2 separate regions of the Homo sapiens genome follow, and region 2 is linked to region 1. Evidence: fine-mapped expression QTL. A gene starts in region 1. The other region holds a variant in brackets. All regions are shown on one strand. Distances are from middle to middle.

Region 1 (8,885 bases):
TCATGATCCGCCTGCCTCAGCCTCCCAAAGTACTGGGATTAGAGGCGTGAGCCACTGCGCCCGGCCTATTTTTGTATTTTTTTTTAGTAGAGTTGGGGTTTCATCATGTTGTCCAGGCTGGTCTCGAACTCCTGACCTCAACTGATCCACTTGCCTTGGCCTCCCAAAGTGCTGATTATAGCTGTGAGCCACTGCGCCCAGCCCAAAATGTTTTTTTAATCAAAGAAAAAAAGCTTATGGCAAAAAAGTATTCAAAGAGTACTTAAGCATAGGAAGAGAAAATTTTAAGTTATCTTCAGTCTTTCCTTAAATTCTCAAGGTAACAAATAAAAGTCAAATTGCAATTTTTATTGGCTGTGTAATATTCCATTGCACGCTACTTTTTTTTTTCTTTTTGAGACAGAGTTTCATTTCGTTGCTCAGGCTGGAGTGCAATGGCGCAATGTTGGCTCACTGCAACCTCTCCCTCTCGGGTTCAAGCGATTCTCCTGCTTTGGTCTCCCAAGTACCTGAGATTACAGGCATGAGCCACCACGCCTGGCTCACTTTTGTATTTTTAGTAGAGACGGGGTTTCACCATGTTGGCCAGGCTGGTCTCAAACTCCTGACCTCAGGGGCTCTCTTTCCTGCCTTGGCCTCCCAACCTGCTGGAATTACAGGCATGAGCCACTGTGCCTGGCTTTTTTTTTTTTTTTTTTTAGTTGGAGTCTTGCTCTGTCACCCAGACTGGAGTATAGCGGTGCAATCTTCGCTCACTGCAACCTCTGCCTCCCAGCTTCAAGTGATTCTCCTGCCTTAGCCTCTCGAGTAACTGGGATTATAGTCCGCCACCATGCCCAGTAATTTTTGTATTTTTAGTAGACATGGCATTTCGCCATGTTGGCTAGGGTGGTCTTGAACTTCTGACCTCAGGTGATCTGCCCGCCTTGGCCGCCCAAAGTGCTGGGAGTACAGGTGTGAGCCATGCCCAGCCTGCATGCTAATTTGTTCTTCTCATCCCTTATTATTATCTATCTAGGTTGCTTCTGTCTTTTTGCCTTTATTTAGAATGCTGCCATGAACATCTCCCCCAAACTGTTGTCTGTTTCTTGGGGATAAACTGAAATGAGATTCCCTGGATGGAGAGGATTGGAGTTAAGGAACCCCAGGGCCCGCCCTGATCTGAGGTGTGCTGGGGGAGAGGGACCGGCCTGGCCGGCCGTCTCACCTACCTTGAAGGTGATCTCTGCCAGGCAGCGCGTGCACTTGATGTAAAAGCGGAAGATGGGCAGGCCCAGGTAGACCTCGTTCTGCACCGTCTCCTTCCGAGCATTGAATTTCTTCCCCTTGTAGATGTATTCTCCGCACGTCTTACACCTGCGGGGCAGCATGTAGGGATGTGAGCTGTCTTGGGACGCTGGCTCCCACTGGCAGGCTGTCCCTGCGGCATCCTGCAAGATCACTGCTTGCTTGCCTCCAGCAACGGGGAGCTCCCTCCTTCAAGAGGCAGGCTGCCCCACCCTGTGTCCAAATTTCCTCTACCTGAGAACTTCGTGTTCTCATTCATATCTTCCTGGGGCTCAGTCCAAGGGTCGCCTGCTTGGGAAGCCCCCTGAGTAGGTGAGGCCTGCCTGTCATGCACTCCCAGAAGCAATCTTTGTGCTTACGGGGCACCCCACCCTCCAGGAGGAAAGATGCCACACAGAAAAATGCTGCCCCACCCCCCTCTTCCCCTCCTACTCCGGGCTCTGCTCCCCAGCCCAGCACGCCCGCCTCCTGTCTGATCCTGCAAACACCCCCAGCTCAGTCCCAGCTCAAGGCCTCTGCTCCTACAGTCTCATGGCCGGCGACACCCTTCATCCTCAGACCTCAGCGCCACCAGTATTTTGCCTGATGTCACCGTACCCCAGCTACCTATAGCCCTCCCTCCTGCGCCACTGCCCCAGGGGCTCTCTCCTGCCTGACTTCGGGGGCCCGTGCACCTGCCTGACTACCACTATTCTCCACTTCCCATTAGACTGTGGGCTCCATGAGGCCAGGGACTTTGTTCCTGGCGCTCGGCACAGACCCTGGCACACAGCAGGTGCCCAATAAATGAGTGTTGAATGAATAAATGAATGAATGAGGGGGAGGAGTAGACAGGCCAACAACACATGGGCATGAACCGAATTTCACTGACCCAGATGTCTCTTTCCTCGTTAGGTGCGTGATTTCAGATATGCTAGAGCATGAAAAGGTATGGGGTTGAGAGTTGGTGAAATACAGTAATTCTGAAGTGCTACAAAAGGCAAGATCTGGGCACCGTGAGGGGATGATGGAGGCCTCCCGGAGGGGTGAGATTGGAGCCATGACCTATGGCAGACAAGAGGAGCCTGCCATGTGTAAGTAGAAGGAGAAGGCCAGGTGCGGCAGCTCACGCCTGCAATCCCAGCACTTTGGGAGGCCAAGGAGGGCAGATCACCTGAGGTCAGGAGTTCGAGACCAGCTTGGCCAACATGGTAAAACACCAACTCTACTGAAAATACAAAAATTAGCCGGGCGTGGTGGTGCACGCCTGTAATCCCAGCTACTTGGGAGGCTGAGGCAGGAGAATCGCTTGAAGCCAGGAGGTGGAGGTTGCAGTGAGCTGAGATCACGCCACTGCACTCCAGCCTGGGCAACACGGCAAGACTCTGTCTCAACAAAAAAAAAAAAAGAAAGAAAGAAAGTAGAGGGAGAGAGTTCCAAGCAGGGGCAGCAGTGTGTGCAAAGGCCCTGGGGTAGGAACGAGCTTGGCTGTTGGAGGAGCTGAAATATATCTATGGGGCTGCATCTCTGTGGCGTCCTATCCTCTCTGCACACACGTTTACTAACCACCATGATCTCAAGGCAGGCACTGGCTGGAGGGCTCTAAAAGATCCAAAGCTTAATCCCAAGTGGTGAGGCGAAGGAGGGTTGGAATGGTCAATGTCTGAGCCAGGACAATGTCTAAGACCAGTGATCTGGTCTTAACACCGGACGAGTCACCTCTGTGGATGCCAGGCACTGCGTCCTTCAGCCATGACTGGTGTGTGGGGTCACGCAGGGGGTGCTCACCTCATGTTGAAGGGGGCCATCAGCCGCACCACGTACTGCCGGTCTTTGGGGAGCTTGAGTTTGGGGATCTTTGATGGGTCAAAGTCCGGCGGGTAGTATTTCTGCAGGGGAGGAAGGAAACGTTGGGGGAGTTATTTTCAGAAGCAGGGGCAGGACATGGCAGAGGGAAGGGGCTCTGGGGAGCTGTGTCGGGGGTCCCCAAGCCCACCCCAGGTTCCGCGACAGGCAGGGAGGACTCGCAGGACTCAGTACAGTCAGAGGGAGGCCAGGCACAAGCTTCCTGACTCTCTCCTAGTGGAGTTATACAGGACGCATTTAATTCTCCTAAATACCAGTCATGACAATACACATGAAATGCTGTCTACACGGGAAGCTCTAAAAAGCCAGGGTTTGTTTTTGTTTTTGTTCTGAGACGGAGTTTTGCTCTTGTTGCCCAGGCTGGAGTCCAGTGGCGCGATCTTGGCTCACTGCAACCTCCGCCTCCTGGGTTCAAGCGATTCTCCTGCCTCAGCCTCTACAGTAGCTGGGATTACAGGCGCCCACCACCACTCCCCGCTAATTTTTGTATTTTTAGTAGAGATGGGGTTTCACCATGTTGGCCAGGCTAGTCTCGAACTCCTGACCTCAGGTGATCCACCTGCCTTGGCCTCCCAAAGAGCTGGTATTACACACGTGAGCCATCATGCCCTGCCCTTTGTAGAGGTTAAGCTTTGCTTAGCACTTCTGTTGTTCAGGCAGGAGACCGAGTTCCCCGAGGAGTCCCAACTCCCCAGCAATTCTGTAGAGGGTAAACCAGGACTCTGTTAGCTCAGCCTCCCAATCACGATACTACATCCGTTTCCTACAGAGTCATCTCCCTGGATCTGAATCCTGAGGAGCTGAAACCTGCAGGGCTCAGTTTACTCCTCTGTGAAATGCGCACACTGTCCTCTGTCTCCAAGAGTCTTTGCACGCATTCCTTGAGGCAAGGGGGATAAAGTGCTCTTTGCAGTGTCTGGCACCCAGTAGGTGCTCCAAACACAAAGTGCTTTATTTTCCAGTGGTGCAGTGGAGGTATCTGTCATAATCCATACTCACACTCCCTTTGTATCCCAGGGCTCCTGTTTCCCAGGAGTTCCTACAGCAAGCCTGAGACTGCTCTCCTAGAAAGACCTGCGTGGGGCCGGGCGCGGTGGCTCACGCCTGTAATTCCAGCACTTTGGGAGTATGAGGTGGGTGGAATGCCTGAGATCAAGAGTTCAAAACCACCCTGGGCAACATGGTGAAATCTCATCTCTACTAAAATACAAAAAAAATTAACCAGGCATGGTGGCGGGCGCCTGCAGTCCCAGCTACTCAGGAGGCTGAGGCAGGAGAATCGCTTGAACCCAGGAGGCAGAAGCTGCAGTGAGCCAAGAACGTGCCACTGCACTCCAGCCTGGGAAGCAAGCGCAAAACTCCATCTCAAAAAACCAAAAAACAGAAGTGTGCCAACAGTATAGTTTATACTGAACCTCTGCTTTTCTTCTGGGAGTCTGGAATCTTGGCCACTGTCAGGCAGAGGTTATCTGCATGACCAGACCCCAGTAAAATCTTGGCCACTGTAAGGCAGAGGTTATCTGCATGACCAGACCCCAGTAAAAAAAACAAAACACACACACACACACACACACACACACACACACACACACACACACACACACACACACACACACACACACACACACACACACACACACACACACACACACACACACACACACACACGCGCCACCCCACCCCACCCCACCCAAAGTACACGATTGGTTACAGTCCCCAAGTGGGGCGGGGCTTCTCAGAGCCACGCCCCTCAAGAAGAGGGCAAAACACGGCCGCCAGCATTTAAGGAAGCCCCGCCCCCAGAAAAAAAACCCTATCTGGTGGTGATTGGGTAAAAGCCCAAGCCACGCCCCGCAGGTGACTAACTACACCCCAGCCCAGAAGGGAGACTTAGCGAAGGCCCACCCCCCCGACGGAAGGCGATGGGGAGGAGTCTAGGGAGGAGTCTGGGAAGCCCCATCTCGCGGAAGGCCGCTGGGAAAGAAGGGTTCCAAAGAAGAGATCTCAGGAAGCTCCTCCCTCTCCCGGAGTTCCGGGATGTCCTGCTCCGATTGAAAAGCCCCAGTCGCCCAACACTTACGTTTAATACTTTTCGCTCCGACATCTTTGCCTTCTGATCACCTCGCAAGCACCTGAGAAATGGTTAGGCTGGGTAATTATCGAGCTTTTCCGACGGAAGCCTTACTTCCGCAAACGTCACTTCCTTCGGCCGCTATTATTGGCTGCAGCATACACAGCAGACCTCTTTCATTGGTTCCAATCCCCGCCTATCAAGCTGGAAGTCCCAGCGTCTTCCCTCCGGAGTTGCAACCTGAGTAGCGCGAAATAAGGATTCCGGGAGCCATGTGGAATTGGAGAATTTTGTATAGTGCGCTGCGCCCCCTAGAAGCGGGCAGCGGCTCGTTAAAATTTTGTAACGTGACCTCTTGTTCTTCATTCTTTTATTCAGCAAATATGTATTATGCGCCTGCCTTGTATTCTGGGCTCTGGGAATCCACACATCGTTCCTGGGCCCGCAACTCTCACATGGGGTTGGGGCCACACATAGGGTGACTTAAGAGGACCCTGGACGACTCTTGAGTCACAGACATTGACTTAAAGATCAGGCTCCAAACCAACTTCCTAAACATACGCAGTGTCTCCCAAATGTCCCTCCATTGCCCACCTGTGCCTTCCCCTTAACGAGGACTTCCCATCCCATTCCTTCCCCAGCCTCCTTCCCCAGCCTCCTCCCCACCTTTCATGGACGTTTCCTCTGTGTCAGATTGTTCCAGGAAAGGGGTCCGGATCCAGACCCCAGGAGAGGGTTCTTGGATCTCGTGCAAGAAGGAATTCAGGGCGAGTCCACAGTGCAAAGCAAAAACAAGTTTATTTAGAAAGTAGATGAATAAAAGAATGGCTACTTCACAGACAAAGCAGCCCCAAGGGCTGGTGGTTGCCCATGTTTATGGTGATTTATTGATGATATGCTAAACAAGGGGTGGATTATTCATACCTCCCTTTTTTAGACCATATAGGGTAACTTCTTGATGTTGCTGTGGCAATTGTTTGTTTATTTATTTATCTTTTGAGGAGTCTTGCTCTGTTGCCCAGGCTGACGGGCAGTGGTGCGATCTTGGCTCACTGCAACCTCTGCCTCCAGTGGTGCGATCTTGGCTCACTGCAACCTCCACCTCAGGATTCAAGTGATTCTCCTGTCTCAACCTCCCGAGTAGCTGGGATTACAGGCACGCACCACCACACCTGCCTAATTTTTGTAGTTTTAGTAGAGATGGGGTTTCACCATTTTGGCCAGGCAGGTCTCGAACTCCTGACCTCAGGTGATCTGCTCGCCTCTGCCTCCCAAAGTGCTGGGATTACAGGCATGAGCCACTGCACCTGGCCAAAAATCAACTCCATCTTAAAATTAACAAGGCACATTCGCTGCCAGTCACGAGCCAGGGTCATAAGATGTTTACAATTGAGAAAACGTCTTACAAATGCCTAGGAGGACACACTACTACAACAATGGAAGGTCCAGATGTCCTGATATTGCATAGCAATGTATGCTTTTAAGATCGTTATAGTCGCCAGGCGCGGTGGCTCATGCCTGTAATCCCAGCACTTTGGGAGGCCAAGGAGGGTGGATCACCTGAGGTCAGGAGTTCGAGACCAGCCTGGTCACCATGGCCACCATGGTGGAACCCCATCTCTACTAAAAATACAAAAATTAGCCGGGCGTGGTGGCGGGAACCTGTAATCCCAGCTACTTGGGAGGCTGAGGCAGGAGAATTGCATGAACCCAGGAGGCTGAGGTTGCAGTGAACTGAGATCGAGATTGTGCCGCTGCCCTGTGGCCTGGGCGACAGAGTGAGACTCCATCTCAAAAAAAAAAAAAAAGAGAAAAAAAAGAAAAAGATACCGGGCATGGTGGCTTACGCCTGTAATCCCAGCACTTTGGGAGGCCGACGTGGGCGAATCACCTGAGGTCAGGAGTTCAAGACCAATCAGACCAACACGGAGAAACCCCGTCTCTACTAAAAATGCAAAATTAGCCAGGTGCGGTGGTGCAGGTCGAGAGTTCAAGACCAACCAGACCAACATGAAGAAATCTTGTCTCTACTAAAAATACAAAATTAGCCGGGCATGGTGGTGCATGCCTGTAATCCCAGCTGCTTGGGAGGCTGAGGCAGGAGAATCACTTGAACCTGGGAGGCAGAGGTTGCGGTGAGTCGATATGGCGCCATTGCACTCCAGCCTGGGTGACAAGAGTGAAACTCCATCTCAAAAAAAAAAAAAGAAAATATGGTTATAGTCATGGTGTAATGTACTTAGGCACTAAAATGGCAAGGATATGTATGTATACTTTTTGAGACAGGGTCTCGCTCTGTCACCTAGGCTGGAGTGCAGTAACGCAATCATGGCTCTCTGTGGCCTCCACTTCCCGGCTCAGGCGATCCCCCACCTCAGCCTTCCGAGTTAGCTGGAACTATAGGTACCACCACACCTGGCTAATATTTGGCAGTTTTTGTAGAGACAGGGTTTCGCCATGTTGCCCAAGCTGGTCTGGAAATCCTGGGCTGAAGTGATCTGCCGGCCTCGGCCTACCAAAGTGTTACAATTACAGGTGTGAGCCACTGCACCCAGCCAGGATAACTTTCTTTAAGTCGACAAAGTACTACGTTTTGTCACGCGGTCAGCCCACCTACACGTGGACATAGCTTTCACACAGATAAGACCCCTATATAAGAAAAAACCGGTTGTACATGGTGGCTCACACCTGTAATCCCAACACTTTGGGAGGCCGAGGTGGGAGGATCACTTGAGCTCAGGAGTTCAAGGCCAGCCTGGCCAACACGGTAAAACCTCGTCTCTACTAAAAATATAAAAATTAGCTGGGCGCAGTGGTACATGCCTGAATCCCAACTACTCAGGAGACTGAAGCAGGAGAATCGCTTGAACCTGGCAGGTGGAGGTTGCAGTGAGCCAAGATCGTGCCAAGATCGTGCCATTGTACCTGGGTGACAGAGCAAGACTCCATCTCAAAAATAAATCAATAAATAAAATAAAAATAAAAACCTTAAAACAAAGACAAGGCGTTCCTCCTCTTGTTTTCTGAGGACGCCCTACTTTGTAACTGAGTAGCCTTCCTTTTTTTTTTTTTTTTTTTTTTTTTTTGAGGAGTTTTGCTCTTGTTGCCCGGGCTGGAGTGCAATGGTACAATCTCGGCTCACCGCAACCTCCGTCTCCCAGGTTCAAGCTATTCTCCTACCTCAGCCTCCCAAGTAGCTGGGATTAAAAGCATGTGCCACCACGTCCGGCTAATTTTGTATTTTTAGTAGAGACGGGGTTTCTCCATGTTGGTCAGGCTGGTCTTGAACTCCTGAGGTGTTCAAGAGGTGATCCACCCACCTCAGCCTCCCAAAGTGCTGGGATTACAGGTGTGAGCCACCACACCCAGCTAGGGACCCCTTTTCCTGGCACCAGGAAGACAATAATATGGGACAAGGAATGGTGTTAAATAAAGTTTACAGGAAGCCATGGGTTTGGACTGAGCTCCTGCACTAGGCCCAAAAGACTAAACCAAAATGAAGTCCCTCATGCGGAAGTTTTACACCAAGCTGAAACTAAGTTGTTTTTCTGGTTTTCCAAGAAATCGAGAACTGGAAGGAAGTGGGGAGAGAGAGAGAGAGAGGGAGAGAGAGAAAGAGAGGGAATAGTCAAATCCATGAACAGAGGCAGGCAGATCACCTGAGCTCGGGAGTTCAAGACCA
Region 2 (8,885 bases), 25 kb before region 1:
CTCATCAAATCCAAGTCGTCTCCCTGCCGGATAAAACTAGATGTCTGAGGTATAAATATTTGAAAGGGGCCTTCTAATTACAATCTGTGTCAGGAATAGCAATTAGAGGCCCCGGGGCCGGAATCAAACGGCATTTGACTTTCCTGTGCTTTGGAGCTGGCTTCTCCTGGGGCTGCACCCCGACCCTACCCCAAGGAGGGGAGTGGGGAGAGGCTGGCAGGGAGAGGCAGGAGGATTAGGTAGAAGAGAAAGAGATCCAGGCTAGGGGTCCAGTCACCTTCCCCTGTGACCTTGAATCAGCCACGTAACCTTGTGAGATTTGGATTTTTCTTTTCTCCCTTTTTTTTTTTTTTTTGAGACAGGGTCTCTCGCTCTGTTGCCCAGGCTGGAGATGCAATCACAGCTCACTGCAGCCTCACATTCAACATCCTGGGCTCAAATGATCCTCCCATCTCAGCCTCCTGGTAGCTAGGACCACAGGTGCATACCACAAAACCCGGCTTTTTTTTTGCTTTTTTTTTTTTCTTACGCAGAGTCTCACTTTGTTGCCCGGGCCTGGAGTGCAGTGGTGCGATCTCGGCTCACTGCAAGCTCCGCCTCCCGGGTTCACACCATTCTCCTGCCTCAGCCTCCCGAGTAGCTGGGACTACAGGCACCCGCCACCATGCCCGGCTACTTTTTTGTATTTTTAGTAGAGATGGGGTTTCACTGTTAGCCAGGATGGTCTCGATCTCCTGACCTTGTGATCCTCCCGCCTCAGCCTCCCAAAGTGCTGGGATTACAGGCGTGAGCCACCGAGTCCGGCCGCTTTTTTTTTTTGAGGCCGAGTCTTGCTCTGTCGCCCAGGCTAAAGTGCAGTGGCACAATTTCGGCTCACCGCAAGCTCCGCCTCCCAGGTTCAAGCGATTCTCCTGCCGCAGCCTCCCAAGTAACTGGGATTACAGACGCCCGCCACCACACCCAGCTAATTTTTATATTTTTAGTAGAGATGGTGTTCCACCATGTTGGCCAGGGTGCTCTCAAACTCCTGACCTCGTGATCCGCCCACCTTGGCGCCCCCAAAGTGCTGAGATTACAGGAGTGAGCTGCCATACACGGCCTTGTTGCTTTTTTTTTTTTTAAAGATACAATTCACATTGGCTGGGTGCAGTGACTCACACCTATAATCCCAGCACTTTGGGAGGCTGAGGTGGGCAGATGACCTGAGGTCAGGAGCTCGAGACCAGCCTGGCCAACATGGTAAAACCCCGTCTCTACTAAAAATACAAAAATTAGCCAGGCGTGGTGGCGGGCACCTGTAATCCCAGCTACTCGGGAGGCTGAGGCAGGAGAATCACCTGAACTCGGGAGGCAGAGGTTGCAGTGAGCCAAGATTGAGCCACTGCACTCCAGCCTGGGCAACAGAGCGAGACTCCATCTCAAAAAAACAAAAAACATAACTTACATATCCTACAGTTCACCCATTTAGAGTGTACAATTCAGTGGTTTCTCCTGTGTCCACAAGGTTGTGCGACCATCACCCCTAATTCCTGAACATTTTCGTCACCTCCAAAAGAAACCTCATACCCAATTAGCTGTCACTCCCCATCTCTCCAAATCCCCAGCTCCTGGTAAACACAAATCCACTTCCTGCCTCTGTGGATGGGCCTGTCCTGGACATTTCATAGAAATGGGATCACACACTTTGTGGCCTTCTGTGTCTGGTGTTTCTCACTGAGCGTGATGTCCTCAAGCTGCGTCCATTCTGGGGCCTGTGTTTTTTGTTGTTGTTGTTGTTTGTTTGTTTGTTTTTTTGAGACGGAGCTTGCTCTGTCACCAGGCTGGAGTGCAATGGCACGATCTCAGCTCACTGCAACCCCCGCCTCCCGAGTTCAAGTGATTCTCCTGCCTCAGCCTCCCGAGTAACTGGGACTACAGGCATGTGCCACCACGCCCAGCTGATTTTTGTATTTTTAGTGGAGACAGGGTTTCACCATGTTGGCCAGGATGGTCTCGATCTCTTGACCTCATGATCCACCCGCCTCGGCCTTCCAAAGTGCTGGGATTACAGGCGTGAGCCACCGCACCTGGCCAGGCCTGTGTTTTTTAATTTTTAAAATTCTTCTAGAGGGCTGGGTGTGGTGGCTCACACCTGTAATCCCGCCACTTGCAGAGGCTGAGTCGGGTGGATCACCTGAGGTCAGGAGTTCGAGACCATCCTGCCCAACATGGTGAAACCCCGTCTCTACTAAAAATACAAAAATTAGCCAGGCTTGGTGGCAGGCACATTGTAATCCCACCTACTCAGGAGGCAGAGATAGGAGAATCGCTTGAACCTGAGAGGCAGAGGTTGCAGTGAGCCGAGATCGTGCCACTGCACTCCAGCGTGGGCAATAGAGTGAGACTCCATCTTGGAAAAAAAAAAATCTTTTTTTCTAGAATTGGGATCTTGCAATGTTGCCCAGGCTGGTCTTGAATTCCTGGCCTCAAGTGATCCTCCTGCCTCGGTCTCCCAAAGCTTTGGGATTACAGGTGAGAGCCACTGCACCCAGCCATCTTTATTTTTTTTTTTTGAGACAGAGTCTCACTCTGTTGCCTAGGCTAGAGTGCAGTGGCACAATCTTGGCCCACTGCAACTTCCGCCTCCTGGGTTCAAGCGATTCTCCTGCCTTAGCCTCCCAAGTAGCTGGGACTACAGGTGTGTGCCACTGCACTTAGCTAATTTTTTATTTTTAGTAGAGACAGGATTTCACCACATTGGCCAGGCTGGTCTTGAACTCCTGACCTCCGGTGATATGCCAGCCTTGGCCTCCCAAAGTGCTGGGATGACAGGCGTGAGCCACTGCGCCTGGCCAGCTCTGCCTTTTTTTTTTTTGAGATGGAGTTTCACTCTTGTTGCCCAGGCTGGAGTGCAGTGGCATGACCTTGGCTCACTGCAACCTCCCGCTTCCTGTTTCAAGCGATTCTCCTGCCTCAGTCTCTGGAGTAGCTGGGATTACAGGTGCATGCCACCATGCCTGGCTAAGTTTTGTACTTTTAGTAGAGACGGGGTTTCACCATGTTGGCCAGG[C/A]TGGTGTTGAACTCCTGACCTTGTGATCCGCCCGCCTTGGCCTCCCAAAGTGCTGGGATTACAGGCATGAGCCACTGTGCCTAGCCAGCTCTGTCTTTTTTTTTTTTTTTTTTTTGAGACAGAGTTTCGCTCTGTCGTCCAAGCTGGAGTGCAGTGGCGCAATCTTGGCTTCATTGTGTTAGCCAGGATGGTCTCGATCTCCTGATCTCGTGATCCGCCCGCCTCGGCCTCCCAAAGTGCTGGGATTACAGGCGTGAGCCACTGCACCTGGCCAGCTCTGCCTTTCTTAACTCACGGTCTGATGGCAGAGGCATGGCCTTGTCCACAGAAGCCCCCAGTCTGATGGAAGAGTTGCGGCTCTGACTTCAGGAGCTTCCATTTGATGGGAGAGATATGGCCCTACCTTGAGGGGTTCCCACTCTGAGGAAGGAGACGTGAACCTATCTTCAGTCTGATGGGGGAGGCAGGTTCAACCTTCAACGGTCCCCTGTCTAATGCAGGAGACATAGTCTTGACTTCCAGGGTCCCAGAGTAATGGAGGAGACATAGGCCTGCCTTCAAGAGTCCCCAGTCTGATGAGGGAGGCATAGTCCAAACTTCAAGCGTCCCCAGTCTGATGGGGGAGGTATGGTGTAAATTTCAAGGGCCCAGTCCAACACAGGAGGCATGGCCCTAACTAACTTACAAGGTCCCAGTCTGCTGGAGGAGAAGCGAGCCTTCCTTCTAGGGGCCCCTACCTGATGGGGGAGGCATGATCCAGCCCTTCCAGGGCTCCAGTCTGACACGCAGGCACAGCCCAGCTCTTGGGGTTGCAGTGGGGTGGGTGACCAAAGGCGTAGCCTCGGAGCCTGGAGCTTCATACCCAGGCCCTGTCCCTCCCTCACCCTGGAGGTCGAGGAGTCTCCCTTACCTGTAAATGGGGCAGCAACAGAGCGTGTGCCCGGGGGGTGTTTGTGGACTGAGTGGGTGGTGTCACCCCATTCCCAGATAAGGAAACAGGCTCAGGGAGCCCCAAGTTCACACTGGAACTGGCAAAAGCTGGGGAAATGGCATGGCCCCTCTTCTCCTGTAAGCCCAGGCTGGGGCGGCAGTGGGCTCCAGCAGAAGGGGCCCCCATCGCCCCTCCTCCCCATCCCTCTGATGTGCTCCAGCAGCCAGGCAGCCCCGGAGGAGTTGATGGAGATCTCAGATGAAGGCTGACAGCTCCCGAAGACAGGATGACAGACGCGGGCTGGTGGGGAACGGGTACTGTCGGCAGGGATAGGGGAAGGGCAGGCTTCAGAGGGTGAGGGTAGGGGGCCCTGAGAGGTGGGGCAGGGCAGGGAGGGGTCCCCCGCTGGTCAGGAGGGACAGAGCCCGATGCATGGCTGTGCCTGCCCCTCTACTCCCTCAGTCCTGGGAACCCCCAGGAGAGAACTGGGGGCTGAGAGCAGAATTGCCCCCAGGACACAGGGTGAGAGAACAAAGCTTCTCAGGGGAAAAAAAAAAGAAATAAAAATAAAATTCCAGTGGTGTATGAAAGAGTGGGGTGTGAGAGGGGAGGAGGTGAAACCTGGGGCTCCCTGAGCCTGTTTCCTCATTGGGGAATGGGGTGATGCCCCCTCAACCCATTTGCGAGCACCCACGATGTGCCAGCTGGTTTTGGGGTGCTGGGGTGCACCAATTTTTTTGAGATGGAGTCTCACTCTGTTGTCCAAGCTGGATGGAGTGCAATGGCATAATCTTGGCTCACTGCAACCTCTGCCTCCCGGGTTCAAGTTATTCTCCTGCCTCGGCCTCTGGAGTAGCTGGGATTACAGGCACCTGCCCCATGCCCGGCTAATTTTTGTATTTTTAGTAGAGACAGAGTTTCACCATGTTGGGCAGGCTGGTCTCAAACTCCTGACCTCAGGTGATACACCTACCTCAGCCTCTGAAAGTGCTGGGATTACAGGTGTGAACCGCTGCGCCCGGCCCGAATAAACTTCTACTGTTTATAATTTACCCAGTCTGTGGTGTTCTGTGAAAGCAGCAGCAAATGGACAAAGACACAAGCTGCAGACAAGGTCTGTGTAGGTAAGAAACTGAGAGTGTTTTCTGGCCAACAGCCATGAGGGACTGAATTCTGTCAACAACCACAAAGGTTTGGCAGCAGGTCCTTCCCCAGTTGAGCCTTCAGATGACACCCCAGCCTGGGCCTGTGTCTTTTTTTTTTTTTTTTCTTTGAGACGGGAGTCTCGCTCTGTCCCCCTGGCTGGAGTGCAGTGGTGCAATCTTGGCTCACTGCAACCTCTGCCTCCTGGGTTCAAGTGATTCTCCTGTCTCAGCCTCCCAAGTAGCTGGAATTACAGGCATGTACCACCATGCCCAACTAATTTTTGTACTTTTTTGTAGTGACAGGGTTTTGCCATGTTGGCCAGGCTGGTCTTGAACTCATGACCTCAAGTGATCCGCCCGCCTCGGCCTGTGAAAGTGGTGGGATTACAGCCATGAGCCACTGCGCCCAGCCTGGCCTCTGTCTTGATTGCATTCTTGCTAAACCTTAAAGCGGGAGACCCAATGAAACCACACCCAGCTCTATGTTGTTTTTAAGTTGTTCAGTTTTGGTATAATTTGTTATGCAGCACCAGAAAACAAACAGAGGGAGAGATGGGCAATAAACACGTTCCCAAGGCATCCCCTCTGCATCTCCTTAGAACACACTCACCTGCTTTATTTTCACCACCTTCGGTATACATTATTTATATGTTATTGTAAAAATATATAATACATAAAAGTTTTTTGGGGGCCGGGTGCGGTAGCTCACGCCTGTAATCCCAGCAGTTTGGGAGCTGAGGCGGGCGAATCACTTGAGGTCAGGAGTTCGAGACCAGCCTGGCAACATGGCAAAACCCCATCTCTACTAAAAATACAAAAATTAAGCCAGGCAGGGTGGCGCGTGCCTGTCATCCCAGCTACTCTGGAGGCTGAGGCAGGAGAATCGCTTGAACCCGGGAGGCGGAGGTTGCAGTGAGCCGAGATCCTGCCACTGCACTCCAGCGGGGGTGATAGAGTGAGATGCTGTCTCAAAAAAAAAAAAAATTAAAATTAAAATAAGAACGGGTGTTGGAAGTGGGAGTTCAACTTTGTTTCTGCCAAATGCTCAGGGAACATTTGATAAACACAGGTTCCTTCCTTCCCTCTGCCAACTCCTTCTGCTGCCCCCGCCGAGGAGGGGAACTTCCCAGCCAGAGCTTTCTACTCATAAAGCCAGTGAGTCCCATCCTTGTTGAGTATGTAGAGCGCAGCCCCTTTGAAGGCAAATTGTAGCATCTTTTTTTTTAATTAATTATTTTTTGAGATGGAATCTCACTCTGTTGCCCAGGCTGGAGTGCAGTGGCATGATCTCAGCTCACTGCAACCTCCACCTTCCAGGTTCAAGTGATCCTCCTGCCTCAGCCTACCAATTAGCTGGGATTACAGGTGCCCGCCACCACATCTGACTAATTTTTTTATTTTTAGTGGGGGTGGTGGGAGTCTCACCATGTTGGCCAGGCTGGTCTTGAACTCCTGACCTCAGGTGATCTGCCCGCCGTGGCCTCCCAAAGTGCTGGGATTACATGCGTGAGCCACCGTGCCCCACCTTTCTTTAAAAAAAGACAAATTGAGAAACGGTCTGGCCATGTTGCCCAGTCTGGACTCGACCTCCTGTCTTCAACCAACCCTCCTGCCTCAGCCCCCCAAAGTCCTGGGATTACAGGAACATGCCACAGTTCCTGTCCTGGGCCTAGCTCCCCACCCCCCTCCCCCTTTTTCAGGCAGGATCTTGGTCTCTCACCAAGGCTGGAGTGCAGTGGTACAGTTACACCTCACTGCAGCCTCAATCTCCCGGGCTCAAGTGATCCTCCCACCTCAGCCTCCCAAGTAGCTGGGATTCCAGGCCTGAGCCACCACACCCGGCTGGAATTCCATTATTTATGCCAGAGTTCAGCCTTCACCTACTGGGGACATTGGGTTCGTTCCCCATAATGTTGCTGCTAAACACAGTGTCACGACAAACCTCCTCGTGGGTGTTTCCTTATGAATGTGGGCAAATACCTCTTAGAACAGACAGCCAGAAATGGAACTGCCTACTCAAAGAAGGTTCATATTGTTCACTTTAAAAGATTCCAGGCTGGTGCAGTGTCTCACGCCTGTAATCCCTGCACTTTGGGAGGCTGAGGCAGTCAGATCACCTGAGGTCAGGAGTTCAAGACCAGCCTGGCCAAGATGGTGAGACCCGTCTCTACTAAAAACACAAAAATTAGCTGGGCGTGGTGGCAGGCACCTGTAATCCCAGCTGCTGGGGAGGCTGAGGCAGAGAATTGCTTGAACCTGGGAGGTGGAGGTTGCAGTGAGCCAAGATCACACCACTGCACTCTAGCCTGGGCAACAGAGGGAGACTCTGTCTCAAACAAACAAACAAAAAGATTGTACAGGCAGGGCACAATGGCTCAGGCCTGTAATCTTAGCACTTTGGGAGGCTGAGGCAGGCAGATCACCTGAGGTCAGGAGTTCAAGACCAGCCTGGCCAACATGGTGAAACCCTGTCTCTACTAAAAATACAAAAATTAAGCCAGGCGTGGTGGCGGGCGCCTGTAATCCCAGCTACTCTGGAGGCTGAGGCAGGAGAATCGCTTGAACCCGGGAGGCGGAGGTTGCAGTGAGCCAAGATCGCGCCATCGCACTCCAGCCTGGGGGACAAGAGCGAGACGTCGTCTCCAAAAAAAAAAAAAAAAAAAAAAGGTAAAGAAAGAAAAAAAAAAAGAAGAGAAAACAAAAAGAGCCCAGATGCACACTCAGGCGACAACTAAATATAAATATCTGGGCTCATGCCTGTTACAGTGGCTTATGCCTGTGACCCCAGCACTTTGTGAGGCTGAGGCAGGAGGATCACTTGAGCCCATGAGTTCAAGATCAGCCTGGGCAACATGATGAAACCCAGTCTCTACTAAATATACAAAAAGTTAGCCAGGAATGGTGGCATCCACCTGAGGTCTCAGCGACTCGCGAGGCTGAGGTGGGAGGATCACCTGAGCTCGGAAGTTCAAGGCTGCAGTGAGTCAAGAATACGCTACCGCACTCCAGCCTGGGCAACAGAGTGAGATCCTGTCTCAAGACACAAACAAACCTCTGTGGAATGACCCTCGAATTGTGCTAACAGAGGAGGTCCTGGGACCTCCTCATCAGACTCTGGGAGAGAGAAGGGGCCCAGGCGGTTGGCAGGTTTCCTTTTATTGGTTCTAGACAGTTTGTGGAAGGAAGAGATGAGGCCATCTAGAGGCCGGCAGGCTCGCCCAGTGCCCCAAACACTGCCACCCTGAAGTAGTGTTGGAAGCTGCTCCAGGGATGTTGCAGCCCTAAGCACAGTGACAGGTGGGGGCAGGAGCAGCAGGGGTCCCCGAGGTGTTGAGAGGCTGGTGAGGGCACAGAGAAGGGACCTCCTGGGGCTGAGGCCCCTGGTGGCCCTATGTGTTGGAGCACGCTGGCGCTTGTCTGTCCGGCCTCCAGTCACGCCAAGGCCTCCTGCCCTGACCACCAGCAATGCTGGCCTCAATGTGGCTGAAGCTGGACGTGTGACTTTGACCCCGTGAGGGGGTCCTGGGAGGGCTCAGTTGCTGCCGTTGCTGTCGTCACTGTCCAGGTATGCACCCAGTTGGCTCAGGGAGGACGCGCCAGGCGTCAGGGGTGTAGGGTTGGCCTCCTTCCTGTTCTGCGGGGCTCCTGGTGGGAGAGCGAGAGTTAGCTCATCTCAGCTCCACAGCAGACAGGCCAGGGACAAGGCACGGGGCCGGCCACCTCTGCAGGTTTGCAAGGTCCAGAGGTGACAGCATGTGAA

Evidence for each region. PIP is the estimated chance that this variant, and not a neighbour inherited with it, causes the effect.
Region 2: its variant is fine-mapped to the expression of YJU2 in whole blood (TOPMed, PIP above 0.99).

The regions. Positions count from the first base shown.
Region 1 is chr19:4,243,498-4,252,382 of GRCh38, reverse strand. It overlaps YJU2 (YJU2 splicing factor homolog), which reads right to left and starts at 5,303. Exons shown (of 8, transcript NM_018074.6): 1 at 5,213-5,303; 2 at 3,055-3,155; 3 at 1,212-1,356. The coding sequence starts at 5,236. RefSeq lists enhancers at 5,144-5,233, 5,574-5,713, 5,472-6,243.
Region 2 is chr19:4,268,469-4,277,353 of GRCh38, reverse strand. It overlaps YJU2 (YJU2 splicing factor homolog), which reads right to left. Exons shown (of 8, transcript NM_018074.6): 8 at 8,266-8,770. The coding sequence ends at 8,658. Among named protein-coding and RNA genes, the nearest start is that of SHD, 6.4 kb to the left of the region's middle. The variant C/A (reference allele first, on the strand shown) is at 3,050.